Regions from separate parts of the Homo sapiens genome. Here regions 1, 2, 3 and 4 are each linked to region 5. Evidence: fine-mapped expression QTL. A gene starts in region 5. Each other region holds a variant in brackets. All regions are shown on one strand. Distances are between the middles of the regions.

Region 1 (6,421 bases), 240 kb after region 5:
CACACACAGTCACATGCTGATTTGTTTGTGGGGCGAATATTTGGTAAAGATCAACAATTCAAAACTCTTAACTAGGGTGATTATACTGTAGGTGGCAAGGTCTGGAAAACCCTTCAGATCACTCTATACACAAAAAGCTTGACATGTGATCAATGGAAAGTGCATGGCTCAGGGTGACCCAGATTATGCCGCGGGAAAAAATAACCTCAAGTCTTCATCTGCAACCTGAAAACAAGAAGGGTATTTTTCTTTCTCGTGTTCATGTCCAGCACGAGTTTGCAGGGCGTGTGGCTCCTGATCCACATGGAGGGGACAGTTGCCATCTTGCATATTGCCACTTATTGACCAGAGAGAGGCTTCTGCAGGGTCTCACATGAATAAAGCTAAATACTTTGGCCCTAAAGGTGACACTTCTGCACAAAACTCATTTCGCCAAACTAACTTCTGGTCCCTGCAGGAATAAATTGCCAGTGTCTGTTTTTTTTTTAAAAAAAAAAAAAAAAACAAAACACATTCATAAACTTCTGGAGAGTGGGGACTCAGATTCTATTTCTTACAAACCTACTTTCTTCTCTGTAGCTGTGGCTCACAGTAGAGATTCAATGAGTATTTTGACAAAGAATGTCTCTAAATCTAAAATATGCTGTGCCCAATTAGGGAATTTTTAATAAACATTCAGGGCGACCCCTAGTGGCTCTTCAGCGCAGAGACCATAAGTTCCTCCCCAGGCACCTAATTATATGTTAGGACAAAAACTATGAAGGAATACATACACATCTTACAGTGTCGTCAGCCCTTTTTACACTCCTCAAGAACATAAGAGATCATTCCTAAATACACCATCACAGGAACATCACTTTCCTGTAAATTATTTTATCCTAAATGCCAGATGTTATGTTAGTCCCAAAGGAAGGGGGGGGTAAGAAAGGGAATCAAGGGAGAGAAATTATTTTTGAAGTGTCCACATTTTTGCGAACAGTTCTTTCAAAGTGTATAGTTTACTTAAGATTTAGAAAATACTCATTGCGTTTTTTCCTTTTTACTTTTTTTTAAACCAAATTCTTGTTTATCAGAGATAGAAAATATCAATTTCTAAAAGAAAAAGCCAAGAGCAAGTGTTGCCACGAGTCTGGACTGATGGAGGGGATACTGGCCTTGGATCACCTCACACGCCTGACTTTCCCCCCACCTCCCCGTCAGGCCTTAATACCCCAACTACTCCTGGCAAACATTTTTCATAATTGCACTTTAATAATTTCGGCTGGGCATGGTGGTCATGCCTGTAATCCCAGCACTTTGAGAGGCCGAGACAGGTGGATCAGTTGAGGCCAAGGTTCAAGACCAGCCTGGCCAATATGGTGAAACCCCATCTCTACTAAAAATACAAAAATTAGCCAGGCGTGGTGGTGCATGCCTTTAATCCGAGCCACTCGGGAGGCTGAGGTGGGAGCGTCGCTTGAACCTGGGAGGCGGAGGTTGCAGTGAGCTGAGATTGTGCCACTGCACTCCAGCCTGGGTGACAAAGCAAGACGCCGTCTCAAAAACAAACAAACAAAAAAACAAACAAACAAAAAAAACACTTTAGTGGCTTGGTCAGTCTCACGCACTAGAATGGAAATCCCATCATTGAAAAACAGGAACCTTGTCAGCCTGGCTTGTCTGTGCCCCCTTGGCCCCTCCCAGGCCTGGGTCGCTCCAGAAATCTCTGTGGGATGGCTGTGTGAAGGGATGGATGGAGGAGTGAGTGCCATGCTCTTGGGTGTGTGCTTCTGTGATCCCACAAGGAAATGCATGTTGAAGAAATACTAAAAATACAAAACATGCCTTCTAACGCTGGCATCCCCTGTTATCACCCGTGAGCGGAGGTTGGCACTGGGAGGACCCACTCTTTCTGCTCTTTTCAGGAGGCTATTACTTGACAAGCGCATATGGAGCACTTTCTCTGATAAAGAATTTCCAAGAAGAACAAGCAGCGCGACTGCTCAGCTCAGAAACCAGAGACACCCTGAGGCAGTGGCACAAACGGAGAACCACCAACCGGACCATCCCCTCTGTGGACGACTTCCAGGTGTGCAGCTGGCCACCCCTTTGCTTCCTTCGTCCTCCAGGAATGCGGAGCTGGCTCACCCAGCACATCCCAGCTCAGAGGTCCCCACTGTGTTGAATTATTTGGCAGGAAAGGGATATCTCAAACCACCCTCTGGCCTTGTTACACTGATCTGTTTTCTTTACATTTATATACGCATGGGATACTTGGCCCAAGTTTTGCTGTCTTTAAGAAAACCAAGTTGAATTAAGGCAGAATCTCTGCCCAATCAAGCAGACGATAAGTCAAAAAGGAGGAGGAAGCACTTGGCACAGACGTTGGAGATTTTGTTTCATCAGGAAACAGCCGCTGTGTTACGCGATGCAATTGGCCTAGTTTCTCTTTGGGAAGAGGGAGAGGAACAGCGATGTCTCCTTCCCTTTTCTCTCGCCCACTCTCCAAAACAGAAGACCCCAGAATCTCAGCAGCAGCAGCAACAGCTATGGCAGCCGTCCACGGCGCAGAGTGACCAGGCGAGCATCTGAGCGAGTCCTGCTCAGGTTCCCTGGCCAGGGCTTTTCCTGACCGTGAGCTGCTGCTTGGGAATGTGGGACTCCCAGTGAGCTTGTTTCTTAGAATGGACAGGTGGGTTAGGGCTATAGAAATCTTTACCCAAGGCCAGGCATCAGGGCTCACGCCTGTAATCCCAGCACTTTGGGAGGCCAAGGTGGGCAGATCACCTGAGGTCAGGAATTCGAGACCAGCCTGGCCAACACGGTGAAACCCTGTCTCTACTAAAAATACAAAAATTAGCTGGGTGTAGTGGCAGGCACCTGTAATCCCAGCTACTTGGGAGGCTGAGGCAGGAGAATCGCTTGAACCCAGGAGATGGAGGTTGCAGTGAGCCGAGATCACGCCACTGCACTCCAGCCTGGACAACAGAGTGAGACTTAGTCTCAAAAAAGAAACAAAGAAATCCTTACCCAACACAATTCCTGATTTGCTCATTGTCTATGAAATAATGAGTGAGTTGGCAAATGTCTGCAAATAATATTTTGAAGGTTTTAAATTAAATGATAAAACCTTCCTGTGGTTTGTTTCTATGTTCCCCATGATGAGTTTCCAAGCAGGGATGTGGAAAGCAAGACAGATTTGTCTACACATCCAGATTCACCTGCTTTTTTTTTTTTCTTAAGACAGAGTCTCGCTCTGTCACCCAGGCTGGAGTGCAGTGGTGGCACGATCTCTGCTCACTGCAACCTCCACCTCCCAGGTTCAAACGATTCTCCTGCCTCAGCCTCCGGAGTAGCTGGGACTACAGGTGCTCACCACCACACCTGGCTAATTTATTTTGTATTTTTAGTAGAGATGGGATTTCACCGTGGTGGCCAGGCTGGACTCAAACTCCTGGCCTCAACTGATCCACCCGCCTCAGCTTCCCAAAGTGCTGGGATTACAGGCGTGAGCCACTGCGCCTGGCCATTTTTTTTTTTTATAAGAGCTCTGAAAATAGAGGGTCAGATGAGGTGGCTCATGCCTGTAATCCCAGCACCTTAGAGGCTAAGGCAGGAAGATCGCTTGAGGCCAGGAGTTGGAGACCAGCCTTGGCAACAAAGTGAGACTCCATCTCGACAAAACAACCACAACAAAAAATTTTCAAGTTAGGTAGGCGTAGTGGTGCACACCTGTAGTCCCAGCTACTCAGGAGGCTAAAGTGGGAGGATCCGTTGAGCCCAGGAGTT[T/G]GAGGCTACAGTGAGCCATGATCACACCACTGCACTCCAGCCTGGGCAGCAGAATGAGACCCTGTATCAAAAACAAACAAACAAAAAGGCAAGCCCATCTTTGAAAGCCAAGATCAGCTCATTCTTCTCCATGATTGCAGTATGCTCAGAAATTCCTTCTGGAGCGCATAAACCTAAAGAGTGAGAATACACGCACTGCACTCTCCCCACCCTGTTGCACTAAGAAGGTCCCTGTGCCACTCAGTGCCTGCAGACCCCTGGGGTGCCATCATATAGCCATCCAGGGAGGGGCTGCCTAGGGCAGAACAGAGGAAGTGAAAAAAGTTCATTGTTCCTTTCCCCACCTGCCAACACACCCTCCTCCACCTCTTCACCTGGAGACCCTCAGACACCATAGAGCTGCCTTCTTCTGCAGCCGTCCCCTCCTGCCCTCATTGACCCTGCTCACCTTGGAGGTGCATGCCTTCTCAGAGTGTAACCGAAGAAGGAAATGTTCAGCACTCGGCTCAGGGGTCAAAGCAAAACCTCAGACCCAAAGCTCCATCTGGAACCCCTAAATCAGAGGCCACAGACACAGAGGTCTTCTCACATGGGAAGAGGTAGTACGTCTTGGTGGTAAAGGCGGTGGGGCTGCATCTGCCACGTCCTAGCTGTGTGGCTTTGGGCAAGTTACGTAGCCTCTCTGTGCCTCAGTTTCTGCACTAGTCAAACAGGGATTATGTAGACCCTGTCTCTTAAAAAAAAAGGTTCAAAGAGTGTCACTGTCAATCTGGGCACCTCCCACTAGCTCACCTCTCCTGCAAAGTCACTGGGCTAGCAAAAGTCCCCACTGGAAGCAGATATGAAACATATCTTACATGTGCAGAGCTCACTGTCCTTCCCAAGAGCTTTCCCTTCTGTTATCCCAGGAAACCCTCGTGGTGACCTTGCAGGCACCTGGGCAGAGAGCCCTCCTTCCCTTCACTGCTGAGCAGGGTTGCCAGATTTAGCAGAAAAAAATCTATTTGTTTTCTAGCTGAAACTCAAATTTAACTGGCTGTTCTAGATTTCATCTGATAACTCCACTGTTAAGGAAACAGAAGCAAAGTTATCTGGGGTCACAAAATCTAGGAGAGCCTGATGTGAGTTTAAGATTCTTTATGCCTGGTCTGGGCTTTGTATCTTGTAAGGCCACAGGTTTACATGTTTCATGATAGCATGTACCTGGCATGATTGCAGCACCTGAGCCTGCAAACGTCTTTGTTTAATTCCCTGCAGCACCACCTTGCATGTAATCAGCTCCATCTGCAAAGTATTTGGCAAAATCAACATTCTTCTCCTTCTGACTTTTTCCACATTGTGCCCAGAGCCACTAGGAGCCTTGTATTAGATTGAACTACATGAAATCACCATTTGGGGGAGATAAAAAATAGTCAAAAGTCAGCGCATTTTGTGTGTGTGTGATTCAACCTAAATGATTGCCCTTGCTTAGGATTTATTTAAAAAGTTTGTCAAAAGTGAACACAAGCCAGGTACAGTGGCATGCACCTGTACACCTAGCTACTCAGGAGGCTGAGGCAGAAGGATCACTTGAGCCCAGCGGTATGAGTCCAGCCTGGAGAATATAGTGAGATCTCATCTCTTAAAATGAAAAGAAGAAAACAAAAAGTGAGCACAGTACGTGCTTTTGTGTCTAGATATTTTAAATCTCTTTCTGCTGACTTCCTTCATACTCTTGTGCTATTTGGTTTAGTTTTCAAGCTGGGAATAAACCCAGCATTGGATGTGGTTCACACTCTTAAGCAGGGGTTTCTTAACCAGACCTTATGAGGGAAATGGAAAGATCAGAACCAGGGCTGCATGGACTTCCTGCTTCTTACAGTTGCAATGAATCATGTAGTCATCTTCGCCACTGTCCAAAGTCAGATCAGCCTCTTTCCTTGCCATTCGAAGCCTCGTGGCCTGACATCGGACATTATGACAGGAAAGGGCCTGGAAATGGCTTACAGTTACCCCCTCCCCTGGTCCCCCATCATGCTCACTATCTAGTTTTCTCTTCTGACTGTCTCAACATTCCTCTTCCACCTGCAGAATTACCTCCGAGTTGCATTTCAGGAGGTCAACAGTGGTTGCACAGGAAAGACCCTCCTTGTGAGACCTTACATCACCACTGAGGATGTGTGTCAGATCTGCGCTGAGAAGTTCAAGGTGGGGGACCCTGAGGAGTACAGCCTCTTTCTCTTCGTTGACGAGACATGGCAGCAGCTGGCAGAGGACACTTACCCTCAAAAAATCAAGGCGGAGCTGCACAGCCGACCACAGCCCCACATCTTCCACTTTGTCTACAAACGCATCAAGAACGATCCTTATGGCATCATTTTCCAGAACGGGGAAGAAGACCTCACCACCTCCTAGAAGACAGGCGGGACTTCCCAGTGGTGCATCCAAAGGGGAGCTGGAAGCCTTGCCTTCCCGCTTCTACATGCTTGAGCTTGAAAAGCAGTCACCTCCTCGGGGACCCCTCAGTGTAGTGACTAAGCCATCCACAGGCCAACTCGGCCAAGGGCAACTTTAGCCACGCAAGGTAGCTGAGGTTTGTGAAACAGTAGGATTCTCTTTTGGCAATGGAGAATTGCATCTGATGGTTCAAGTGTCCTGAGATTGTTTGCTACCT
Region 2 (6,421 bases), 34 kb after region 5:
GAGAGAAATTAAAGAAGACCTAAATAGATAGAAGGACATACCATGTTCATGGATTGAGATATTTTAAAGATGTCATTTATCCCCAAAGTGATCTACGGACTCATTAAAATTTCAAATAAGTCCTAGCAGAATTATTTTCTGTTTAAATTGGCAAGTTAATTCCAAACTGTAGGTGAAACTGAAAAATAATTATAAAATTCAAAGCCATATTTAAGAACAACAGCAAATCTGTAGCTCTTACATTACCAATTATTAAGACATGCTATAAAGCTACATAATGAAGACTGTGGCATCAGAACAAGGATAGACAAATAGGTAAATGGAACAGAAGTGAGAGTTCAGAGACAGAGCTACAAGATAATGCAGTATCTTGGCTTACAACAAAGGCTACACTGCAATTAAGCGGGTGTGGAGGCGGGAGAAGAGTCTTTTCCACAGATGGCGCTAGTCAGTTGATATTCCTGAGGAAAAAAATAAAACTTGATTCCTATGCCATACACAAAAATGATTTTATGATGGATCATAGGCTTAAATGTTAAAACTAAAACAATTAACCTTCTAGAAAAAATACAAGAGAAATATCTTCGTGAACTTGGGATATGCGAAGATTTTTTAAAATAATACTTTTAACTTAAGATGTGTGCACTTTACTGTATGTTAATTATACTTCAATAGAATTTCCTCTCCCTTGTCTTTTGTTATGTGACACTCTTAATTTTCTTCCTAGTCCTTTATGATTTCTCTATCTTGCCTAGTTTCTTTTATTTTGTACAAGATTCTTTCTGTGGTTTACTTACTTTCTCTTGCTGCAGTTGGTATCTTGGGCATTTTACCTATTTGTAGCTTTAGCTGCCTGCTCCCTGTAGGTGGCTCCTAATCTTATAACTGTTGTTCCAATCTGCCTCCTCCCATGGGGTCGTAGGACTCTCAGGGACATCCAACTATTGCCTGGTTCCCTGCCATGTGCTTCAGTCCCCTCTATGCATCCCCATGGGTTGTTGTTCAGTCTGTGCTTTAATATTTTTGATGAGGAGAAAATCACCCAGTCCCAAAGTGCTAGCCAGAGATTCCTCACCTCGAGTTGCAATTTGTCTTCCTCTAATTTCTCTCCTTTGGTTCTCCTCTTATCTGTCACTGAGCAAGTCTAATTCCACTCACATGACAGAGGCTTCCCTGCTTTTTCTTTTCTCCAAGTCAATCATCCAAGACTCCTTCAAACATCTTTTCCTAAACATGGTCACATATTTCATTTCTAGCTACTTCTTGACGGGCCCTAATTTTATCACGTTTTTATCAAAATGTGGCACCCAGAATTGAACAGAAGGCTTGAAGGTGATCTGGCCTCTATAGACCATCATTTCCCTCGTTGCAGATGAGTTGTTTTCTGAATATAGACTTATTCATTTGTCTCTAGTAATTCTTCAACTGCCTTTTGGATTTCTCAATCTGGATCTCCCTAGAAACCTCAATTTATTCAAAAATGAAATAATCATACACCCACCGACACCAGCAACTGCCCCAGTCTTACAAGGCTAGCAAGTCAGGTTGCCTGCTTCCCACTCAGATAACTTGATCTCTAGCCTTATTAATTAGGGGGCAGCTATTACTCCACTTGGCTTTCATTCTCTATTTGTGTATGTGGGTTTAGGGAAGGGGACTTTTTATCCTGATACAGAATATCCATTTATTCCTGTTAATTTTTCAACTAATGTTGGATTTTTCAAGTTGGGCTTAACTTATCTAAATCTAGGATAAGCTGGGCTCTGTGGCTTGCACTTGTAGTCCTATCTACTCTGGAGGCTGAGGTAGGAGGATGACATGAGTCCAGGAGGAGTTCAAGGCCAGCCTGGGCAACATAGGGTTACCCCAGCAGTAAAAAAATTAATAAAAATAGAATAATCATCCACTTACCCCAACCAATTCCCCCTCCCAACTTCCTTATCCTTTGGGTGGCCTTATCTGGCCCTTCTTCATGTCTGTCACCTTCTTTCTTAGTTCAAGCCCATATTCCTTAGTTCAGGTCTCTCTTACTTGCCCTAAATGGTCCTTCCAGCCTCCAGCACTTCACCCCAACTCTGAGATGGTCACTAGCTCCCATAGGTTTGCATTGTAAAATGGAAACCCTTCCCTTTGTCCAGACCATGACCTGGCCTGCCTTTCCATGTGAATCCTCAATATGCCCCAAGGGCTAAGCAGTGTTCTAATGGTTGTAGCTTGGCACAGCTGCTTTAAACCAAGTGGTTCTGTCTAAACTAAAATGCCTTTCCCCATACTCCCCAGCCAAAACTACACTCATCTTCTGCATCTCTTTCAGATGGCCCACAAAGAAAAACAGGACTTCATGTGTGTTCCTGTAATGTATAGCTTAGACCTTGAACAAAATCAGCCAGTGGCTTTGAAATTGAATAAACAAATGAATTACTTGTCCCATTTCTTTAATTGGAAAAATAGAATTAGAAATGATTGGAAAATTATCACAGATATATATGTATTTCTAAAACTACTGGTCATTTCTAAAGATAAGTTTTCCAAAAAAGTGAATGAATTTATTTGAGAAAATGACTAAAATACAATTCTGTGGATGTTATTTAATTTCCTCTTACATATTTAAGAAGACACCAAAGAATATAATTTGGGAGTTACAGTGCTAAGGCTTAGATAATTTAAGGTCAACAAAATTCTTAGCTTGATCTTTGAAAGAATACCTGATCCACCAAAGAGGAGATGTGCCCCCTGCCTCAGATATTATTATGTGGAAGTGAGGAAAGCTTCATAAAATTACAGTAACATGACTTCTCTAGGGAAAACAGAGATCATCAGTTGAGGAAAGTTAACTAAGAAGTTCATTTTAAAGTAATCTAAATTTTCTTCATTACACAAATGTCTTTGGAAAGGGAATGAAAAATATAACAAATATAAATCCTTATTTTTCATAGGAACTTTAATTTCTTTTTCCAAAGATAAATTATTCTTTGAAATAAGTATTCCTAGAACTGTTAACAGGAGGCATTTTGAGGAAATGCTCATATTCTCATGCAAACTCAGCACTGGGGTTGTCTTAGTGCAACTAGCAAGGCTTTCTTTGCCTGTATCGTGTCCACTTCAGGCAACAGGTAAGGAATAAAGTCATCTAAACTTACCTAAAATGTTCATGTTTTAGAATTACCCATAATTATTATCTTCATTCCTTTAATAATGTTGAAAAGGAAATGTGTATTTTTTCCTTCCCTCCCCCATCCAGCTTTTTCTCAGGTTGTTTCCATGGTTGGGGGAAGAGGAAGGACAAGTGGGACTCCTTCCAGGGACATGGCCAGAGCAG[T/C]TGACAAGGCCAAGTGGACAGTATGAGCTGAAAGAAAGAAATTCTTCTTTGTGGACAGAGGAACTGCCTGTGAAGGTCTTCAGAGGCAAATTCTACCACAGCGGAAATTCCACTTCCAGCTGGCGTGGTTTGCCTTGGCTTTTTAGGGTCTACCTGTCTGTAATGGTCACCCTCATCAATGCACTTAATTCCCATTTTTAACAGCAAAAATATACATTTCTAAAAGATGGCGAAAGGAAGATATTCAAGTATATAACATGCTTTACCTTAACCAAATATTGACTGAGGCCTCATAGTGTCATTTCTCGTGAACATTTAAACAAGAGCAGAATCCACCCGGGTCATCAGAGGGTATCATGTGCCTGAAACAAAATGTCAAAGCAGTGGTAATAGGATGTAATGAGTGATGTGTGTTGTGAGAAAGACACTTGAACTAAGATCTGGAAAGTGAGGGAAGCAAAGCTCACAGGAGCAAGGGGTGCCTGCCATTGAGGACTTAGCGCACACATGGGGAGGTGAGGCAAGAGCCACCAGAGGGGCTAAAGGGGGGACAGTGATGACAAACCAAAGATGATTTGGTGATTGACAAGCCAAAGAAGACTCAGGTTTGCCACTGACCAGCACATAGCGTTAAGCAGGTTACCTCACCTCTTCCAGCTACAAAATGAGCATATTCTATTACCCCTTCATTGGCTGTCGGGGTGATTTGAGGGAGGAGGGGGCTCAGCATAGTGCCTGGCATGGAATCACTTCTGAAAACCTGCTAGCAATTGCCTATTATGTTTTGAGGTGGATCTTAAAAGTTTGGCAGGATGGTAACAGGAGATGGCTGCGGAGGGCAAGGTATTTTAGGCTAAGCAGCCACTGTGTGTGTGTGTGTGTGTGTGTGTGTGTGTCTGGTGTGTTCAGAATATAGCATTGTGTTTGTGTGTATGTGTTCAGAATACAGCAAATACAGCAGCCCAGCCAAGGGGTATTGATGACCTGTAAGGCTTTGGGAATTATTCCATCAGGCAGCACTGTCCAATAGAAATATAACATGAGTTGCATATGTAATTTAAAATTTTTTGTAGTCACATTTTAGAAAGTCAAAAGCAATAGGTAAAATTAATTTTAATAAGATATCGTATTTAATTCAATATTTCAACATATGATCAATATGAAAATTTATTACTGAAGCATTTAAAATTTTTTTGTATTAAGTCTTCAAAACCTGGAGCATATTTTCTACTTACAAAGCATTCCTATTCAGACTTGCCACATTTCAGGTGCTCGATTGCCACACAGGGCCCGTGGCTGCTATATTGGATGGCTCAGCCACAGAGGGGCTTTCCTGTGATAATAGCATGGTTTTCCTTGAATGTTAGTCTTTCTCTCTCTCGTACCCCAGAGAGGGAGATGGCAATGCCTTTCTCTAGTACAATTAATTTAAAGAAAAAAAAGGAAAGGAAAAAGGGAGGGAGAAAAGAAGTACTCCAGGGCACTATCTTCACAGCTGGCCTAATCCTGAGGTTTTCACAAATGAAAACTCAAAGGGTTTTGGGAGATGCTGGAACATACTTTGACCCTTTTAGATTATACTAGCAGAGATGCTCTAGAAATCTTGCACAAAGAAACTTATTTTACTTTGAGTAACTCCAAATTTTCCAGGTTATTAGGATTACAGAACAATGTTTTTAACACTTTCTAAGGTTGACAATTCATCGTTTTGTAGGAAAAGCTGTGGGGAAAGACTGGAGAAGCCTAGATTTGGGTTCCCCATGGTAGCTACTGACGCATTGCTGGGGTTGCTAGATAGGGAAGTACAGGGAATTGGAATGAGAAAGCTCATAGCTGGGTGAGTAAATTCTTAGCCTGAGCCAACACCAGAGATGTGGTCCAGTCATGAAGATAACACAGGCAGGATTCAGTACCTAACAAAAATCAATCAAATTGGTCACTGAATCTTTTCATCTGTGAAGCTTAGATACACTAAGGCAGGATGAACTGAACCAATTTTACTTCCTTTAAGAGAAGATCAGGGAAAATAATATACCCAAGATCACAAGGATCCAAAGAATAATGCATCTATAGTCAACATGTACAGAATAGAAAAGAAAAGAAAGGCTTTAGTGAGAGATGAACTCCACCAGTAGCAGATTTCAAAATGGCACCCAGCAAGTGGCCTGCATGTGCAAATCTTCAAAAAAAGATTCAGTGGGCTGGGTGCAGTAGCTCACGTCTGTAATCCCAGCACTTTGGGAGGCCACGGCGGGCAGATCACCTGAGGTCAAGAGTTCGAGCCCAGCCTGGCCAACATGGCGAAACCCCATCTCTACTAAAAATACAAAAATTAGCCAGGTGAGGTGGCGGGAGGCGGAGGCAGGAGAATCACTTGAACCCAGGAGGTGGAGGTTGCCTTGAGCCAAAATTGCACCACTGCACTCCAGCCTAAGCAACAGGGTGAGACCCTGTATCCAAAAAAAAAAAAAAAAAAAAAAAAGATACAGTGATACTAGGTAATGATGAATAACGTTCATATGAACCTTCTAGATGATGCTATCAAAATATGTGGAAAAATAAGCAACTACTTCAGTTTCTAGAGTTGTGACTACTGGATTAAGAAAAATTAAATCTAGTTGTATTTCATTTTCTTCAACCTGTTATTACCTTGTAGGTTTTAATTTATAAATTTCTTTATAAGGACTTCAGGGTTTCTATGAGAACAGCGACTCAGGATTTCTCACAACGCCTCGCACCTACTAGATGCTTACTCCGCATTTGGTTAATTCATGAATAATTCTGATCAAGACAATCCCCTTCATAAATTTGGCTTTCCTCCATAGAAAAATTAAATTAAAATTTAAGACAATTTAGAATCCTTAAAGGTAGAAACACTTCAGTTGTCTTTAGAGAAACTCTAGTTTGTTGAGAAACCAATGTAAGTTTTAAAAGAATTTGCATTTCTCTTAGGAACACAACCCTGTTAAAGTTCAATAACCCATTTAAAACACAGGCACTTTGCTGAGGAAATGCTCTTGTGTACACATGCGGTGACACTGGCCCAGGAAGGTCAGGACAGCATCCCAAGTTGTTCCAGCTGCTTAACCCGGACTCGCAGGG
Region 3 (6,421 bases), 230 kb after region 5:
CATTTATTGAGGTTTAACTTACATCCATAAAGTGTGTAAATCTTAAGTACTCGGCTCAACAGAATTTTACACACATGCACACCCATGTAGACACAGTCCAGATCCAGATCCAGAACATCTCTAATCCCTGGTGTCCTGTCCTGGCCCAGATCCTCCCCAAGGGGGACTGCCATCATGACTTCTGTCCCACAGGTTAGTTTTGCCTGCTTTTGAACTTCATATAAACGAAATGCTGTAGGAGATACTCTTGTGTCTGGGTTCTTTCACACAGCCTTGCGTTCATGAGATGCATCCATGTTGTTCTGGAGCAGTAATGTGAGCTTTTTCATTGAATAAATACATTCCATTGTCTGAATTTCATTGTAGTATTCCATTGAATGAATATATCCAATGTATTCATTTCTGTCCAAATGGGCCTTTGGGTTATTTCCAGCTTGGGGCTATTATAAATAACATTACTATGGACATTCATTTACGTTTCTAATTAATGACTGACATGGCCTTTGTCCTCCCGTGGTGACCCTATTTTAACCAAGTAGTGGTCACTTACAACCATGAATGTAGCTTTCAGAATGTTTGGATGAGAGGAATAAACTGGCGAGTATTTATAAAGTGACTTGAACTTTACAATTAAAAGATTATTTACTTTGAAAAGCTGTATAAATGGTTATTTAAAATAGTTGTGTGGCTTCTATCAAGCCATTAGTCATCTCTGAGCCTCAGTTTCCCCATCTGTTAAACGGACATAATATTAGTATTGTGCAAAAATAATAGAATTATTGCAAGGATTAGATGATAGTGAAGTAAAGCACTTAGATGGAGGCTGGCCCATCTGAGCACTCAATATTAATTTCTGTTATTAATTTTTTATCATAATGATGATATAAGGTAAAGTCAAAGATGCTATGAAGTTGCACGAGCTTATTAACACAAAGCAACCAATGTAAACCAAGTAATTTGTTTTAATGCCAGATGTGAATAAGTTGTTCTGCTTTTTTTCCTACTTTATAACCTCCTTCGCATCAACCTTGATTTCTATAGTTATATAAACCTTTGTATTTAAACAAAGAGATCTCCTGGATAAGTTGGAAGAGGAGAAAGAAAAAAACAACTTGGGCTGGGGAATCTGATGATTGTGGGGTCAGCGTTAACTTTTGGCCTCAGTTTTAACCTTGGGGGACTGTTTTCATTGTTTGTACCTCTGCGTTAGATTTATCTTTGTCCCTGGCCTTCTAATAATAGGTAATCATTTGAATTCAATAAGATCTGATCCAGCGTCAGGAATTCCAAAGGCCAGAGAGACAACTCAACTATTTCTTTTGCTTTTTCTTTTGAGACAGAGTCTCATTCTGTCACTCAGGCTGGAGTGCAGTGGCAGGATCTCGGCTCACTGCAAGCTTTGCCTCCAGGGTTCAAGAGATTCTCATGCCCCAGCCTCCAGAGTAGTTGGTATTACAGGTGTGCGCCACAACGCCAAGCTAATTTTTTGTATTTTTGGTAGTGATGGGATTTCGCTGTGTTGGCCAGGCTGGTCTTGAACCCCTGGCCTCAAGTGATCTGCCCACCCCAGCCTCCCAAAGTGCTGGGATTACAGTCATGAGCCGCCATGCCTGGCCTAACTTAACTATTTCTGATCTTATATGTAAGTGGACCCATTGGCTTCCCAAATGGAATAAAATTAAGGTGTCATCATTTTATGCGTAGATGCTGCAGCAGAACCCAAGGGGCTCAGATGAGAATGTGCAAACGTGTGAGGTCAAAAAGCTGCTATTGACAAAGCAGAGGAGTTATTATTATATAAATAGCCTTCAGCCCGCATCTCTGGATTTATGGTACTGGTCATTTTAGTATTAGCCAAGAAAGCTACTCCACTGGGAAACCATTCAATGAAGGAGGGAAGAATAACGCCTCCCACACCCAAAGGTGTTTCCTAACTCGGAACAGAAACACATTTCACACATTTTTAACTTTTAATTTTGAAATCATTTCAGATTTCCAGGAAAGTTGCAAAAATATCATAAAGAAATATCTACCCTTCACTCAGATTCCCAAATGTTAGCACTTCGCCACATCTGCCTCATTCTTCTTTCTCTCTCTTCACACACACACACACACACGCGTGCACACACACAGATACATGCACGTACACATACATGCACACAAATACGTGCACACACACTGTCTCTCATTTTTTCTGAACCATTTAAGTTGCAGACATTATATCCCTTTACCCCTAAATACTTCAATGCATATTTCCTAAAAACAAGGCTATTCTGTTTAATAACTACAGTATAATTATCAGACCTAGAAAATTAACACTGATGCCTTGTTAGCACTATTACCTTATCTGCAGGCTGTATTCGATGCCCCACTAATGTCCTTTATAGCAAATGAAGAATTTTTTAGTCCAGAATCTGATCCAAGATCACATACTATATTTAGGTGGATCTATTTCCTCAGAAAACATTCTTTTTTTTTTTTTTTTTTTGAGATGGAGTATCACTCTGTCACCCAGGTTGGAGTGCAGTGGCACAATCTTGGCTCACTGCAACCTCTGCCTCTTGGGTTCAAACAATTCTCCTGCCTCAGCCTCCCCAGTAGCTGGGACTACAAGCGTGCACCACCATGCCCAGCTAATTTTTTTGTATTTTTAGTAGAGATGGGGTTTCACTATGTTGATCAGGCTGGTCTCCAACTCTTGACCTCAAATGATCTGCCTGCCTCAGCCTCCCAAAGTGCTGGGATTACAGATGTGAGCTACCACGCCTGGCCCTCAGAAAATATTCTAAGAGATGTTGAATGCTCATTATTAGAAAATCCTTCCTTTAAGATAACATCTTTGCTCTCCTGTTAATTGGATGACCAGTTGAAGGACTAGGTCAAAAGAATGTCTTCTAGCATATTTGCCTGTACTTACAGGGATAGGGCATGAAAGTAATTAAAACAAATATATTTCATTGTATTGATTATATGCAAGTTAGACATCATTGGGGAAGATTCGGTCTTCCTGGCTTTTCAGAGAAAAATGTTAACATGTGAGTTATGGCGCTGCTTGGTGTTGTCTGTTGGTTGGATGTTAAGGTGTACAATTTGTGTGCCTGCAACCAATGCATAGAGTTGCAGATGTCCATTGTAAGAAAGCAGATGTTGCATTTCTTCTTTCTTCAGACAATAGTCATAGTAGCTACACTTTCTTTGGCAGATGTGGTGCTGGAAAAAGCCATGCACAAGTGCATCTTGAAGCCCCTCAAGGGGCACGTGGAGGCCATGCTGAAGGACTTTCACATGGCCGATGGCTCATGGAAGCAACTCAAGGAGAACCTGCAGCTTGTGCGGCAGAGGAATCCGCAGGAGCTGGGGGTCTTCGCCCCGACCCCTGATTTTGTGGATGTGGAGAAAATCAAAGTCAAGTTCATGACCATGCAGAAGATGTATTCGCCGGAAAAGAAGGTCATGCTGCTGCTGCGGGTCTGCAAGCTCATTTACACGGTCATGGAGAACAACTCAGGTGAGGCCGCTGGAAGCCCAGGCTTCGTGCC[G/A]CTTCCCTTCCGGGCCGGGGACAGGCCTCTCTCCTGTCAGGCTTTCTGATTCCCAATTTCTCCTCCCTTTGGTCTCTTGATTTCACCAAGTGGCTTACAGAACTACAAGTGATTCTCTGATATCCGGCACATTAGTCACATGCAACAGATTAAAATGTAAGCAGATGAGGGCAACAAGATTTTTGTACCAGGCCGATTTAATTAAAGATTTAGTTCAGAGTATGGTTACAAATTCAGTCTCTGGAGTCTGAGTTCAAATCTTCCCTCCGAGAAGAAGAAAATTAACTGAGGGACTTTGGCCCCCTTAATCAACCTTGCACGCTGTAGTTTTCTGCGTCTTTAGCCGGATGTCACCCTTTCTTTCATGAGGTGGGGATTAGCTGAGACAGCCCACACATAGCCCCAAGTGCAATGGAAATGTCAGCGATTATCATTACAACATTTTGGCCAATGAGGGTTTGTGTCAATGACCTATAGTATGTGAAAGAAACTCTGAACATTCAGTTATAATGAGGCCTCATTAGAGCCGCTTCATTGGCTAGCCCTTCTTTGCTACAAGCTGAAGCAATATAATTGAAATTCACCGAAGAGTTACAATCTTGGAAAGCCAGCCCTCAGATTTAGCCTTGTTGTTTCCTGTAGATGCAGGGGTAACCATGAATCCTGGATAGTAATGGAGCCCTGCATTGTCCCAGGTCTTCAGTAAGCTTATTGTAATTCTGAAGACGATTACGAACTTTTCTTCTGAGTGAAATTGCTTAATGGAGAAGCAGCAGAGAGAAAACACAGGCTGTATTAACCACTGCTTGAGTAGACAGGAATGTGTGTGCACTTTGGGAATTGTTGAGTGAAGAAGTTAAAATATGAGCTCCTGGGCGTGGTAATGATAGCAAGTGAACATCACCTCACAAGTTTGCAAGCATATTTCACATATAGGAAACATATTTTCTATAGTTCACAGTTATTTATAAAAATTCCCCAAATAATATCTGAATATCTGAATTCCCCAAATAATTCAGAAGGATTATGCTCTTCTGAAGCACAGTTCCTCAACACACACACTAAAGACATTAATGTAGACAGGATAATTCTTCTTTTGGGGGCTGCCCTGCTTCCTGTAGGAAGTTTAGCAGCATTCCAGATGTCATCTGCATCCCCACCCTCCAGTTATGTCAATGAAAAATGTCTTCAGACAGTGCCAAATGTCCCCTGGGGGACAAAATTATCTCCAGTTGAGAACCACTGATGTAAAGAAAACTAGAAGTAAACACTAACATTTTTTGCCATATATTTCCATTAATCAATGTGTATATTCAACATGTACTGAATTGGCACGTTTAAAGAAATTAACTGTGTGCTCACATTAAATACAGAGCAAAGTTAGCTTATTCCTGGTTTGAGTTTGACCTTGTCATTATGTTTGTAAATAATGTGCACAGCAAGAAAGAGGAAGTAAGACACAAAGAATTAGCATAAGTAAATATTTTGTAAGCATTTTATAATCTTGTTTGCTGAAAGTTAAAATATTTTAACGAGTATTCTGTTCTATCACATAATTTTATACAAATTATAAAAGTAGGGAGAAAATCTGTAATGTGTTCATTGGTTCATAGACATTCATTCTGAAACTGTAAGGGCTGGTCTCTAACATTAGCAGCTGGGAGGGTCAGAGGCTACATAGGATTCCAGAAACACTCACCTCTGTTTATAAATAGCACAGTTCCCCCCAGAGTGACTCCTTGCTGTCTAATAAAAGCAGCAAGAAGGATGTGAAAGAAAGAAAAGTTGGTAAAAATATTCCATCTCCTTCTCTTCCTGCTCTCAGGGAGGATGTATGGCGCTGATGACTTCTTGCCAGTCCTGACCTATGTCATAGCCCAGTGTGACATGCTTGAATTGGACACTGAAATCGAGTACATGATGGAGCTCCTAGACCCATCGCTGTTACATGGAGAAGGTAACTGCTTTTGAGAAAAGTTGAAGGAACTGGGTGCTATTTTTTTCATTTTTTTATAATTGAGACGAAATTCATGTCACATAACATTAATCATTTTACAGTGAATAATTCAGTGGCATTTAGTATATTCACAATGTCATGCATTCTCCACCTTTATTTAGTGTCAAACTATTTTCCTCACCCTAAAATAAAATTCTGCACCCATGAAGCAGTTACTTGGGTGCTTTTTTGACATCTTAAGTGTTAACTGAATTTTTTATTAATTTAAAAGAGTGTACTAACCTTTTTCTGATTGCAAAAGTAATACACACTCGTGGTAGAAAATTTGGAAAAGTCAGGAAAAACACAAAGAAAAAATATAACCCCATCTTAACTATACTTCACTAAGATTGCTTAATGGCAATAAAAAAAATACATTCAGTAGAATAAATGCCATTTTTTTTGGAAGAAATGGTTTCTTTGGCTCCAAGAGGAAATTATAAACTTTTGTTGAGGATATTTCCATTGCCAGGAAAATAACCTGCTCTTATATTAGTGAAATGGATAAAAGCTTGGCTTTGTTTTTATTTTTTAAAATTTCGTTTTCAAGGTGAAAACAGTATTAATTTTTTTCCAGTTTTTTTTAAGTATCTTTTCATTTTTATAGTAAAAATACAGGGGTGTGGAATCTGTGCAGTTTGCTCTCAATTTACGTTGGCATTCGGGTTCCTTCTCCTTGTGTCTGCCTAACCCCAACATGTCTTAGCAGAAATTCCTTCTCCTTACACATAGCTTAGGTATTTTACATGGAAATGATTAGGATGTTTGGCACAGTAGTGCACAGCCTTGAAACGCAGAAATAACTGGGACTCTATGTGAGCTTATCTTTTCAAAGGAGAACAAATCAGGGCCTGTGCACTGTGAATCCTCTTAATCCATTTTTATA
Region 4 (6,421 bases), 110 kb after region 5:
CATAAGATGTCAGTTATCCAGATTAACACATTTTAACATTTTACCATATTTGTTTTATTTCTCTTTTTTACCTCTCACTCCACACACAACACGTGCACACATGCTCATGTGCACACACACACACTTTTTTCTAAACCATTGGACAGTAAGTTGCATGAGTCACGCCTCTTTACCACTCAATACTTTAGTGTTTACTTCTTAAGAACAAGGACATATTTTTACATCATCACAATCCAGTTACCAAATTCAGGAAATTTAACATTGATGCAATACTTTAATCTGTTGCCCATATTTCAGTTTTTCCAATTATCCCAATAATGTCATTTACAGCATTTTTTTTCAGTTAAGCATCCAACTGAGGATCATTTATTGAATTGAGTTGTCACTTCTGTTTAGAGACTCCTTCACTCTGAAATGTATCCTTAGCTTTTGTTGCCTTTTAAGACCTTTACGTTTTTAGAGCATGCAGGCCAATCATTTTTGTAGAGTGACCCTCAGTTTAGGTTTGTCTGATGCTCCTCACAGTAGATTCATGTTTTGCACCCGTGGCAGGAATGCCCCAGAGTGATGCGGTGGCCTCCTCAGTCCCAGATATCAGGAGGCACATGTGGCAGGTTTGTTTTATTCCTGGTGACACCAGCTCCAATAGTTTAGTTAAGATGGTGGTGTCCACCAAGTTTCTCTGCAGTGGGAGAATTTTAAGAGTTGTGGTTTGTCTAAAACTGAGAGATGAATCAAACTGGGAGGGTATTTAGACTTTGCTGGATGATGGCCCCAAAGCTGCTCTGAAAATGCTGTGCAGCTGGGTGAGCCGGCCTGCTCTCTGAACTGCAAGGCGTTTTCGTGGGACAAGAAAGGGCAGCATCAGCAGCCTGTTCTGTGGCTGGGGCTGCAAAAGCCATCAGTGTCGTCATGTCTGGCGTGGGGCATGCTGGTGCACAAAGAGCCGAACCAAGCTCCACAGCAGGAACTGACACCAAGCCAGGCCCCAAGGAGGCCTGTGAGTGTGGCCAGTTCCCTGCTTTGGTGACGTGATATTTATGCACCACGGCTCTTCTGAGGTTTCTCCAACTTTCCCATATAAAATGAAGATGGCCTTTCTTCTGAGCCAGGGCTGCCCAAGTGGCAGGCCACAAACCACGCATCGCCTGACCCAGGCTGGGGCAGCAGCGTCTCGGAGAAAAACAGGAAATTGGGACATACGCGCTTTCCACCGCCTGGCTACGTTATGAGTTTCTTAGTGGTTCCATGTGGCTTGAGTAACAGGGTAATTTTCCTTAATGCAGTAAAATACCCAAAGGAATGAAGATGTATTTTATTGGACAACGTTTTATTTTAGTAAATTATTTAGTGTCCAGCACTGTTTGAAGTACTCTTACAGATTCGCTCCTGAATTCATACCACACACTTTCACTGGGCCAGGAAACACGTGAAATGAGCAGGGCAGGTCTTAGGGTTTCATCCGGGTTTTATGATATGCTGGGCAGACCGTGAACATTCGACAACAGGCCGTGCTCCATCCTGTAGGGGCACACAGCCTATGTGAGATAAACAGACAGCTATAATCATGATGTTGTGGAGGCTGTCAGAGGGACCTTGGGGACCCAGAAAGGGGAAGGGCTGATAATGGGAATAGGTAATGAAGGGAAGCTAGCACAGAGATGATCTCTGACCTAAGTCTTGAGGGATAAAAAGGTGTTCACTAGCTGGGCATGCTGGCTCACACCTGTAATCCCAGCACTTTGAGAGGCCAAGGGGGGTGGATCACCTAAGGTCAGGAGTTCAAGACCAACCTGGCCAACATCGTGAAACCTTGTCTCTACTAAAAATACAAAAAGTTAGCTGGGTGTGGTGGCATGTGCCTCTAATTCCAGCTACTCGGGAGGCAGAGACAGGAGAATTGCTTGAACCGGGAGGTGGAGGTTGCAGTTGAGCCGAGATCACGCCACTGCACTCCAGCCTGGGTGACAGAGCAAGACTCCGTCTCAAAAAAAAAAAAAAAAAAAAAAAGTGTTCACCAGGTGGTGAGGCATTTTAAACAGAGACTGAGTGATGTATACAGAAACACGCAGGGTGGATGAGTCTGCGCTGGAGAGAGGGATTAGAAATGCAAATAAAGGTTTGAATGAAATTGATGAAGACCATATACGCTGTGGCAGAGTTTGGACTGATGTCAGGGCCACCTTGATTAGATTTTGTGTTTTAGGCAGGATTTCCCAAACTTGAGAGGAAGGGTTTCTGGGGAACAAGACCCTCACTATTCCTTCAGAGGTTACTGACTTTTGTGACATGGTGAGGTGGGGAGACGAAGCCACGTCATCACTGGCCACACTGAAGATGGGTTAGCACTGACCCCAGGGAAGGGCCAAACCAAGAGATAGAAAAAGCTGGGGAAATGGGGCCTGGTTGAATTGTGGAGCTGCTGGATTGGCCCATGCCACTCCATGAAGCCTCCACCCTCACCCTGGACTTTAGGCCATCCCTTAATCACTTTTACTGCTTAGAGATTTTTAAGCTTTTATTTTGTTCTTGGGTTTTTTTTTTTTTGAGAGACAGGGTCTCGCTCTGGGGCCCAAGCTGGAGTGCAGTGGTGCAATCACAGCTACTGCAGCCTCGAACTCCTAGACTCAAGTGATGCTCCCACCTCAGCCTCCCAAGTAGCTGGGAATACAGGTGTGCACCACCATGCCTGGCTAATTTTATTTATTTATTTATTTATTTATTTATTTATTTATTTATTGTAGAGAAGGGGGTTCGCTATGTTGCCCAGATGACAGTGCTGGACCCAAGCAATTCTCCCGCCTGGGCGTCCCAAAGCATTGGGATTACAGGCGTGAGCCACCTCACGGGGCCAAGTTATTTTGAAATAATGTCAAACTTCCAGAACCGTGGCAAGAATAGTTCTGAGGACTCCTCTGTACTATTTGCACAGGTTCACTGACCTGTGCCATTTTGCCCCATTTCCTGTATCAGCCTCTGAACCAGGTTAGAGTAGATTGTAGCCATCAGGCCCCTTCACCACTTACTGCACCAGTATATACTTCTGAAGAACATGGAGGTTCTCCTACATTCCCACAGTTCGATGACCCAAGAATGGAGCCTAATCATCATATGATACTTTGATCTAAACCCGAGATGCCAATTGTTATCATTTTTCCCAATAATGTCCTGTATAGCATGTTTCTTTCTCTAGTCCAGGAACTAGTCCAGATCATGTCTTTTGCAGGAAGGTGTCAGGCCTCTTTAATCTTTTTTAAGAGTGATTCCTCAGGCTAGGTGTAGTGGCTCAAGCCTGTAATCCCAACACTTTGGGAGGCCAAGGTGGGTGGATCATATAAGGCCAGGAGTTCAAAACCAGCCTGGCCAACATGGTGAAACCCCATCTCTACTAAAAATACAAAAATTAGCCAGGCACGATGGTGCACGTCTGTAATCCTAGCTACCCAGGAGGTTGAGGCACGAGAATCACTTGAACCCAGGAGGCAGAGGTTGCAGTGAGCCAAGATCGCACCACTGCACTCCAGCCTGGGCTATAGCATTAGACTCTTTCAAAAAAAAGAAAGAAAGAAAGAAAAAATGGTTCCTCAGCCTTTCTTTGTTTTTCACGACATTGATATTGATGTAGAATCTAGGCCAGTTCTATGATGGGATGTCCCTCAGTTGGAGTGGGTATGATGTTTCTTCTTGATGAGATTCCACATACACACTCTCTGTTG[T/G]AATATCCTCTAACTGATGCTGTGTTCTTCTAGGGCATCACGTCTGGAGGAACACAGCATCTGGCTGCCTTCGTTTGGGATGCTGACTTGGATCACCTGGACAAGGTGTTGCCTAATTTCTCCACTGTGTAGTTACTATCGGTCCCCTTGCAACTAACAAATACTGTTTAAGGAGATGTTATTATTTATCTTCAAGCCAATTTGAATGGGGTTTTCTGTTACTTCCAACATAAAAATTCCTAGCTGATTCAAGGGCTCATTTGTATTGCAGGATTGATTGCTGATTACCATGGAGAAGCAGGCAAGGGATTATGAAGAGAAAGACAGGAGGGATATCTTAAAAGCTTTCATTGTGGTCTGATGGGAGCAGATCTGGACCAAGGCACATGGGGATCCTAAGAGGACTAATTCATTTGGTGACACTTCTTTTTCTTTGAATTTATTTTGCAAGAGCTGAACAACAACAAAAATGATACTCTCGCCAGGTAGGTGGCTCACATCTGTAATCTTACTTTGGGAGGCCAAGACGGGGCTTCACTTTGAAGCCAGGAGTTTGAGACCACCCTGAGCAACAAATTGACACCCAGCTGAAGCTTCATCTCATGAGGTATCTTTGGGAGACAGTATATATCGTGCACCTCAGAGATGTCCTACTAAAATGAGGGAGCAGGGTTGAGGTGAGAAAAATCACTGTTGCTAGTAAATAGCAGTGCATCATGCACTATGTGGTTTCAGAATTTCCTCTTCCTCAGACTGCCAACTTAGGTCACACATTCTAGCTGTTCTAGGTTGGCTTGTTCTAGGTTTGGCTGGGAGTTAGGGCATGCATTGCCACGTGTCAAAATACTCAACAAAGATAGATCAGTGCTAGTGAGGATTGTTTCCTATCTCCACTTCTGTGGGGTCTCTACTCTGAAGGAGGTAGAACCAATGTACGCATCGCGGCTTCTCTAAGGAATCATAGGCAGGAACTCTGCCTAACAGGGACTATATTTCCAGTTAAAAATGCTGAAATGGATCCCCAGTTTATTTCAATGATGTTTATGAGGAGGACGCTAAGATTTAGGAATTGTGGACTCTTAAGTTATTTCACTGGTTCAATAATGGAGTTAGATCATTATGGGGGCAGTGCTCAGGGAAAAGCCCATGAACAGGGTGGGTGATATGGTTAGGCTTCGTGTCCCCACTCAAATCTCATCTTGAATTGTAATCCCCAGGTGTTGAAGGAGGGAGCTGGTGGGAGGTTATTGGATCATGGGGGCAGTTTCCCCCATGCCTAGTGATAGTAACTGAGTGCTCACGAGATCTGATGGTTTTATAAGAGTTCAGAAGTTCCTCCTTTTTCACTCGTCTCTCTCCTGCTGCCTTGTGAAGAAGGTGCTTGCTTCCCCTTCCACTATGATTGTAAGTTGCCTGAAACCTCCTCAGCCATGAGGAACTGTAAGTCAATTAAACCTCTTTCCTTTATAAATGACCCAGTTTCAGGAAGTTCTGTATAATAGTGTGAGAATGGACTAATACCATGGGCTTGAGCTAGTCTTTGAAGAATAGGCAGAATTTGGATATACGAAGTAGGGAAGGTGTGGGGGCACTGGTCCAAATGCAAAGGTGGGAGTGGGGATAAAATATGGATAAGATGCATGTGCGATTGTACCTCGCTCACTTCCTCCTACCATACACTCCTATGCACGTCTTACTGCAACTTTCTGCCTGGCCGTCTGAGGGTGCCATCAAGTTAATACGCCCAGGAGCAATTCTCCAACAGTGACCTACACAACCCAGCTTCCTTGACCTCAAGTGGGACACCCCTGAAGCACACTCACCCCACATCATCTGCACTCCCCTGCAGCATCATGCTCTGGTGGCCCCCAGCTATACATGTTCAGTCTTAAAGGATAAATATTCTAAAGGTAAAATCATGACATTAATAGAAAACTTTTTAAAAACTACATCAGAGTGAAATACTGGACATTGGAAACTACAAAATGTGGGACGCTGGGTAGGGAGTGAGGGTTGAAAAATTACCCATTGATTATGATGCTCACTATTCAGGTGATGGATATAGCAGAAGCCCAAACTTCACCACTACACAAAATATGCATGTAAGGTACCTGCACTTGTACTCTCTACATATATTTAATAAATAAATTAATTAAATGTTTTAAAAACTGCTTAAAATTTTTTAAACTCATTAGTGAATGAGGGAAATGGTAAAATGTCACAACTGATTTAAACATAGACTCAAATAGCACTTACATACAAATATATAACACACTTTTTCTTTTTTTAATGTTTTATTTTATTATTTTTATTTTTATTTTATTTTATTTTTGAGACAGAGTCTTGCTCTATCACCCAGGCTGGAGTGCAGTGGTGCAATCTCGGCTCACTGCAGCCTTGATCTCCTGGGCTCAGGTAATCCTCATGCCTCAGCCTCCCAAGTAGCTGGGACTACAGGCATGTGCCACCACTCTTGGCTAATTTTTTAAAGTTTTTTGTAGAGTTGGGGTCTCACTATGTTGCCAAGGCTGCTCTTGAACTCCGGGGTCAAGGGATCCTCCTGCTTCAGCCTGCCAATGTGCTGGAATTACAGGTGTGCACCACCATGTCCAACCATGTAACACACTTTTTCTGGAAAGGACCAGATAACATTTTAGGGTTTGCAGGCCACGTAGTCTCTGTTGCAACTACTCAGTTCTACCACT
Region 5 (6,421 bases):
CCTGGTGGTCAGATTTCTGGCACTTGTAGCAAGCTCCTGGGGGAGGAGGTTCTAGAAGAACGCCTGGCCGCTGCGGTTCAGGCATTTGGAAGTTCTTGTATGCTGGAGATGTGGCTGGGGTTTGTCTCACAGTGGAGCCAAGGAATTGCAACTTTTTTCTATTATTGTACACCTTGAAGGCGAGGTTAATTAAATCCTGTTGTGGGGTTTGAGGGCCGGAATTTAATTTTTGGAGTTTTATTTAATGTCGGGAGCAGATCGGGTAATAAAATGTATATTGAGAATAAGATGGCCTTTTGACCTTTTAGGGTCTAGGGCTGTAAAGCGTCTCAGGGTTGCTGCCGAACGAGCCATGAACTGGGCTGGGTTTTTATATTTGATGAAAAAGAGCCTAAACGCTATGTGATTTGGGATAATGAAAAAGGAGCATTAACCCTGACTATGCCTTTGGCTCCAGCCACCTTTTTAAGAGTAAACTGCTGGGCAGGTGGGGGAGGGCTAGTCACAGAATGAAACTATAAGTCGGACCAGGTGTGGGATGAAGGGAGGGGAGGCGCGGAGGCTGAGGAAGAATTGGGACCTAGCTTGGGCTGGCGCGGAGGGGAGAGGTCAGATGGGTCTGTAGAAGAGGAAGATTAGAAAGACTCAGCGCCGCTTGGGGTTGGGACTGAGGGGACAGGAGGGAGGGAAAGAAGGAAGATTTGGGACGAGTTGCACGGGGCACAGAGACTAGGAAGGGACTGATGTGTAAAAGAATGCCTGGACGTCAGGCACCTCAGACCATTTGCCCATTTTACGACAAGAATTATTTAGATCTTGTAGGATGGAAAAATTGAAAGCGCCGTTTTCCAGCTATTTGGAACTACTGTCGAGTTTGTATTGGGGTCAAGCGGCATTGCAGAAGAAAATAAGGCATTTAGGTTTTAGGTCAGGTGTGAGTTGAAGAGGTTTTAAGTTTTTGAGAACACAGGCTAAGGGAGAACAAGGAGGAATGGAAGGTGGAAGCCTACCCATAGTGAAGGAGGCAAGCCCAGAGAAAAGAGTAGAGACATGGAGAAGGGGTGGGGAGTTCTTGCCCTCCAGAAAAGCAGAGAAAGGGTTGGGGCACGGAAATAAGGGATTGGGGCACAGAGATAAGAGGTTGGGGTGCGGAAATAAGCGATTGGGAGGTTCTTGCCCCTAGGAAAGCGGGACTTGCCGCTAAGGGTGAAGGAGAAGGGGTTGAGGGGTACTTGCCCCTGCCCCAGGAAAGGCAGAGAAGGGGTAGAGACAAGGAGAGAAGGGGTTGGGGTACTTGCCCCTTCCCCAGAAAAGCAGGACTTGCCGCTAAGGGTGAAGGACCAAGGCAGGCGTCCCTGCGTGGTCTGACACCCTTGAAACGTGGGTGTATAATCACAGAGGCATCCCTGCAATGATTAAACACCAAGGGAAGGCTGCCTTCCCAGTCCGTGACCGGCGCCGGAGTTTTGGGTCCACGGATAAAACGTGTCTCTTTTGTCTCTACCAGAAAATGAAAGGAATTGAAATTAAGAGAAGGGAGAGATTGAAGTGTAGCGCCAAGATTGAAAGGAGAAAGAGGTTGAGGGATAGTGAGGCAAGTTGGAGAAGAGAGTAAAAAGAGGCCGCTTACTGGATTTGAAATTGGTGAGATGTTTCTTGGGCTGGTCGGTCCTGAGGTCGTAGGTGGATCTTTCTCACAGAGCAAAGAGCAGGAGGACAGGGGATTGATCTCCCAAGGGAGGTCCCCCAATCTGAGTCACGACACCAAATTTCATGCGCGTCCGTGTGAAGAGACCACCAAACAGGCTTTGTGTGAGCAACATGGCTGTTTATTTCACCTGGGTGCAGGTGGGCTGAGTCCAAACAGAGAGTCAGCAAAGAGTGGTGGATTATTATTAGTTCTTATAGGTTTTGAGATAGGCGGTGAAGTTAAGAGCAATGTTTTGTGGGCAGGGGTGGATCTCACAAAGTACATTCTCAAGGGTGGGGAGAATTACAAAGAACCTTCTTAAGGGTGGGGGAGATTACAAAGTACATTGATTAGTTAGGGTGGGGCGGGAACAAATCACAATGGTGGAATGTCATCAGTTAAGGCTATGTTTACTTCTTTTGTGGATCTTCAGTTACTTCAGACCATCTGGATGTATACGTGCAAGTCACAGGGGATGCGATGGCTTGGCTTGGGCTCAGAGGCCTGACACACACCATCTATTTAATTCTGTGACCTGCTCCAGACACAAGCACTCTGGGCCCCCATATTCTTTTTCTTGTTTTCCCTATCACCGACCTCTTCCAACACCCCAAATAATTTACTTAGGGATGGCCATGGTTTACCCTCTGTCTCCCACTTCTTCCCCGCAGGCCTTCAGCTCCCCCAGGTGAGGGAGACCTTTGCTTTGTTCACCGACATATCCCAAGCATTAGAACTGCGCCTGGCACCAGCAGGTGTTCAATTATTTATTTAATGGGTGACTTGGAGCAGAAACCGAAGTGCAGTGGACTGTTTTCCTGGGATCTGAGCTGATGATAAATGATAAATAAGTCTTGGGATTTTAGAAGGCAGGAATCACGAAAACCAACACCAATGAAATCCAAGTCTCCTCTGCTACTATCTGAAGTGGAACAGAACAGAAATAAGGTCTGTTTTCTTTCCGCTTCGCTGTTCTGTTTCTGTCCAAAACAACCGTCTCTCTGACACCTTCGAGGTGTCCCTTTGTCTCTTTGAGGTTCCCTCCGTGACACTGGCTACTTTGTAACTCTAACACTGTCAGCAATTAATTCCCAAAGGTGAGGTCCCCGTGGGAAGTGGGAAAACCCAGCGAATCACCAGGGACCCGCCTGATTCCGAAAAGGCTGGATGCTGGCTGGGAACCGGCCCCGCAGCTCCGGCGTCCCCGCCTGCCTGCGCGGCCTTCAGCTGGGGTTACGGAGGGCTCCCAGCGCCGATCCAAACCGCGTTCCAGGCGGGGTGGGCGGGCCCCTGGCCAGCGAGGCCGAAGCAAAACAACCCGCCCAGGCGTCCAGAGCGTATCCAACCCTGGAGAACCTGCCCCGGAACCAAGAGCCGCAGCCAGCTCAGGCCTCTCGAGTGGGGCCTTTCCAGCCCCTGCAACAGATCCCGGGATCTGTAGTTGGGCGGAGGGGCTCGTTATGGGAAAGGGGTGCGTGCGCGTTTGTGCTAAAACAAGAAAGGCAAGAATCTCCGAGAACAAAACTCTGGTCCTCGCCTGGCCGGGGACCGCAGAAGACAGGGGCGGCAGCGCCAAGGCGGGTCAGGGGCCGGTCCAGCCAAGTTTGCTCCGGCTTAGATAAACTTTCTGATGGCAGTTTTTCCTGGTTGCAGCCTGGGTTCCTTGTAACAGGGTAAGCGTAGCGGGTGGTTGTCAAGAGGGGCGGAGGCTGGCGGTTACAGGGAATGGAGGGATGGGCCGGACCTGGGGTCGCGCAGGCGCCTTGGTCGCTGCCTCCGATCCGATCACCCCCGCCCCATCTCCTCTGCGAGCTCAGGAAGGTGGCTGGGGGAGGGGGATGGCTCCCTACTGCCGAGGGACGGCCCGAGGCAAACACAAAGCCCTTCCCTCCCCTCCTCCTCTTTCCTCTCCTCTCCCCTCCCCTCCCCTCCTTTCTCCCCCTTCCTCCTCTTCCTCCTCCTCCTCTTGCTCCTCCCGGGCGGGGAAACCCAGCCCCGCGCTCGTCTTTGGGGCCACCGGTCGCCCCCGCCTCCGGGACCTGCGGGGAGGGCCCGCGAGAGGTAAGGGGCGGTGGCAGCGGAGACCCCACCCCCTGTGCCCGCACCTAGAGAGCCCGGAGAGGCTCCGGGCACGGGCGGGGCTCTCTGGGGTTCCAGACGTGGGTGCTGCTGTGCGCACTCTCTCCCTACTCCGGAGGGGACTTGAGGAAGACAGCCAGAGCGCGTCCTCGGGGATCGTGGGGAACGGAAGGGGGAAGGGGGATCAGGGAGTGGGGACAAGGGGCAGAGTGACATTCCGGAGCGCGAGGTGGCCGCTGGTCCCGGCAGGGTCACCGGGTGTCCTCAGCTGACCTGTGCGGGGCTGGGGTGAGGGACAGCTGGAGGGTGCAGGCACTATGGCTCGAGGTGCGGAGGTGCGGGTGTGCGTGCGTGTGCACCGGACGGAGTTTGGTAGGGACCTTTGAGGAGTTCTACCTGCAGGGCTGCCTGTGGGGTGTCAAGTGCTCCCTGCGCCTGAGCGCGCGGGTCAGACCCGGTGTCGCACAGCTTTGATCCCCAGCGCGGACCCCACTGGTGAGTCCAGCCAGTGTGCAGGGCAGATGCTCCGACCGGAGATTTCCTCCCCCGGGTGGAAAAGCAGGAGGGTTGTTGTGTCCGGGCAGGGGGCACTTGGGCTGTCGCGGTGATTGATGGCTGCGCAGCGGGCGGAGGAGGAGCCCCGGATTCCTGCCGGGAAGGGACGGGGCCACTTTCCCACTTTGAGGCCTCCCCGCCCCCTTCTGGGCTTGGCCTCCACCCTTGGCCTGGGCTCCCACCAGCTCGGCGTCCACCCACCGGCGGTGGCGCGCCCCTCGACCGCGCGGGGACAGCAGGATTTGCAGAAGTTCAGCTTGAAAGCCTATGATATGTTGCCAAGAAATACAGGGCAAGATCGGTCCCCTGGGCCCTGAGAGGCGCCTGTCTTCTCAGAGCTCTTAAATCCCTGGGGCTTTCCTAATTCCGCAGTGTAGCGGCACTTCCTTGCGCGGTTTTGGGCACATTGGGGTTTCTTAGGAACACGCTGTCATCGGTAAGGAAACATCAGAGTACTCTTCGACCAAAAGGACTGTAAATACTGAAGCAAAAAGAAACACTTGCTGGGAGTGCAAAGGGCTTACTGGGAAAAAAGAAACACACAGGGCAGCACTCCATCATTAAGATAAATAGTATTTTAATACAATCTTTTTAACAAAACCAAATTGAATGTAAAAAATTCATGATAAGCAAAAATCAACATTTTAAATACAGGTGGGTGTTGTTAGAACCCTGCTTCATAGGCCGGGTGCAGTGGCTTATGCCTGTAATCCCAGCACTTAGGGAGGCCAAGGCAGGCAGATCACTTGAGGTCAGGAGTTCAAGACCAGCCTGGCCAACAGGGTGAAACCCCATCTCTACTAAAAATACAAAAATTAGCTGGGCCTGAAGGCATGTGCCTGTGGTCCCAGCTACTCGGGAGGCTGAGGTGGGAGAATCACTTGAACCTGGGGGCAGAGGTTGCAGTAAGCCGACATTGTGCCACTCCACTCAGCCTGGGTGACAGAGTGAAACTCTGTCTAAAAAAAAAGAACCCTGCTTCATTGTTCAATGGGAACAGTCATATCCAGTCTCCCTCCCCCACCTCCCCATTTGTTTGTTCCCTTGCCTGGTGGTTTGAGAGTTGACAGTGGCATGCAACAGATTGAGCAACTCTGGCTTCAGATGTAGTCACGTTCACTGAATGCAGAGCTTTTATTAACTTTTTACCTAATTCAAATGTAGGAGGATATTGTCATAAGTGGATATAGAGGTGCTAATTTTCCTTTTTGCCTCAGGTTCCAATATTGCCTCTGGAATACTCATGCACTCCCGTGCTTTGGCACCTCCAGAGAGAGCATCACAGGCTAGGGATGGGTAGGGTCCCGGGACAGTGAAGGGCCCTTGCTTTTGGAACTTGGGAAGAAGGCTGTTGACAGGAGCTTTTGGGTTTGGAGACTTGCTCTCAGTAGTTGGAGGCTGGAGACACGGGGAAAACCAACCTGCTATCAAGACCTTTGTCTGGAAACATTCTCCTGCAGACAGTTCATCAGAGCAGAGGAGGAAACTGAAATAGCCCACACTTGACCTCTAGTGTAGGGCAGGTGGGAGGGAGCTTGACTCCCAGGATGGCTATGGCGTGTGCTTATTTAAAGATAACTTCGCAGCAGCACTCTTATCCCCACCCAAGGTGTCCTGCCATACACCTTATCCAAAGTCAAGGGTCACTACCCACTTCAGGACTTCCACTTTCCAGAAAGAACCTCCTTGCTTAGCTAAACCCTCTTCCTCTGCTTGGAGGACACAGATGAATCAGGTATCACAGATGAAACACAGGGTATGCTACCCTGAGAGGTCCATGCTCGTGTGACCCATTAATGGGAGGCCCATTCTTCACATACTCTCTGTATTATAGTGCTTTGACCTTGTGCCCAATTCCCCTTGTATATCCAACCTACCTAATGAACCTTCAAGAATCCTAATAGTTTCAGCAAGAAAGATTTCCCCGACCCTGTCCTCCTTTCCCCAGTAAGACACCCCCTCACTGCCACCAGAATTCCTTGTGTGTGTGTATGTGTATGTATCTCTTAAAGCAATACAGTGGACCTCACTTGCCCACTGTCTGTAAGCTTCCCAGGGTCCAAAACCAGGCCATAGCCCTTAAGACCTACCACTCAA

Evidence for each region. PIP is the estimated chance that this variant, and not a neighbour inherited with it, causes the effect.
Region 1: its variant is fine-mapped to the expression of RIN2 in tibial artery (GTEx, PIP above 0.99). The same link has a PIP of 0.9 or more in blood mononuclear cells, breast, esophagus mucosa, esophagus muscle, fibroblasts and gastroesophageal junction.
Region 2: its variant is fine-mapped to the expression of RIN2 in whole blood (TOPMed, PIP above 0.99).
Region 3: its variant is fine-mapped to the expression of RIN2 in whole blood (TOPMed, PIP above 0.99).
Region 4: its variant is fine-mapped to the expression of RIN2 in whole blood (TOPMed, PIP 0.97). The same link has a PIP of 0.9 or more in thyroid.

What each region holds. Positions count from the first base shown.
Region 1 is chr20:19,994,775-20,001,195 of GRCh38, forward strand. It overlaps RIN2 (Ras and Rab interactor 2), which reads left to right. Exons shown (of 13, transcript NM_018993.4): 12 at 1,905-2,068; 13 at 5,839-6,421. The coding sequence ends at 6,162. Among named protein-coding and RNA genes, the nearest start is that of NAA20, 19 kb to the right of the region's middle. The variant T/G (reference allele first, on the strand shown) is at 3,769.
Region 2 is chr20:19,788,756-19,795,176 of GRCh38, forward strand. All of the region lies in intron 1 of RIN2 (Ras and Rab interactor 2), which reads left to right. Among named protein-coding and RNA genes, the nearest start is that of RIN2, 34 kb to the left of the region's middle. The variant T/C (reference allele first, on the strand shown) is at 3,320.
Region 3 is chr20:19,986,804-19,993,224 of GRCh38, forward strand. It overlaps RIN2 (Ras and Rab interactor 2), which reads left to right. Exons shown (of 13, transcript NM_018993.4): 10 at 3,203-3,508; 11 at 5,365-5,496. Among named protein-coding and RNA genes, the nearest start is that of NAA20, 27 kb to the right of the region's middle. RefSeq lists an enhancer at 6,202-6,421. The variant G/A (reference allele first, on the strand shown) is at 3,540.
Region 4 is chr20:19,867,095-19,873,515 of GRCh38, forward strand. The region is part of intron 2 of RIN2 (Ras and Rab interactor 2); the gene reads left to right. Among named protein-coding and RNA genes, the nearest start is that of RIN2, 110 kb to the left of the region's middle. The variant T/G (reference allele first, on the strand shown) is at 3,717.
Region 5 is chr20:19,754,577-19,760,997 of GRCh38, forward strand. It overlaps RIN2 (Ras and Rab interactor 2), which reads left to right and starts at 3,682. Exons shown (of 13, transcript NM_018993.4): 1 at 3,682-3,751. RefSeq lists an enhancer at 4,071-4,645.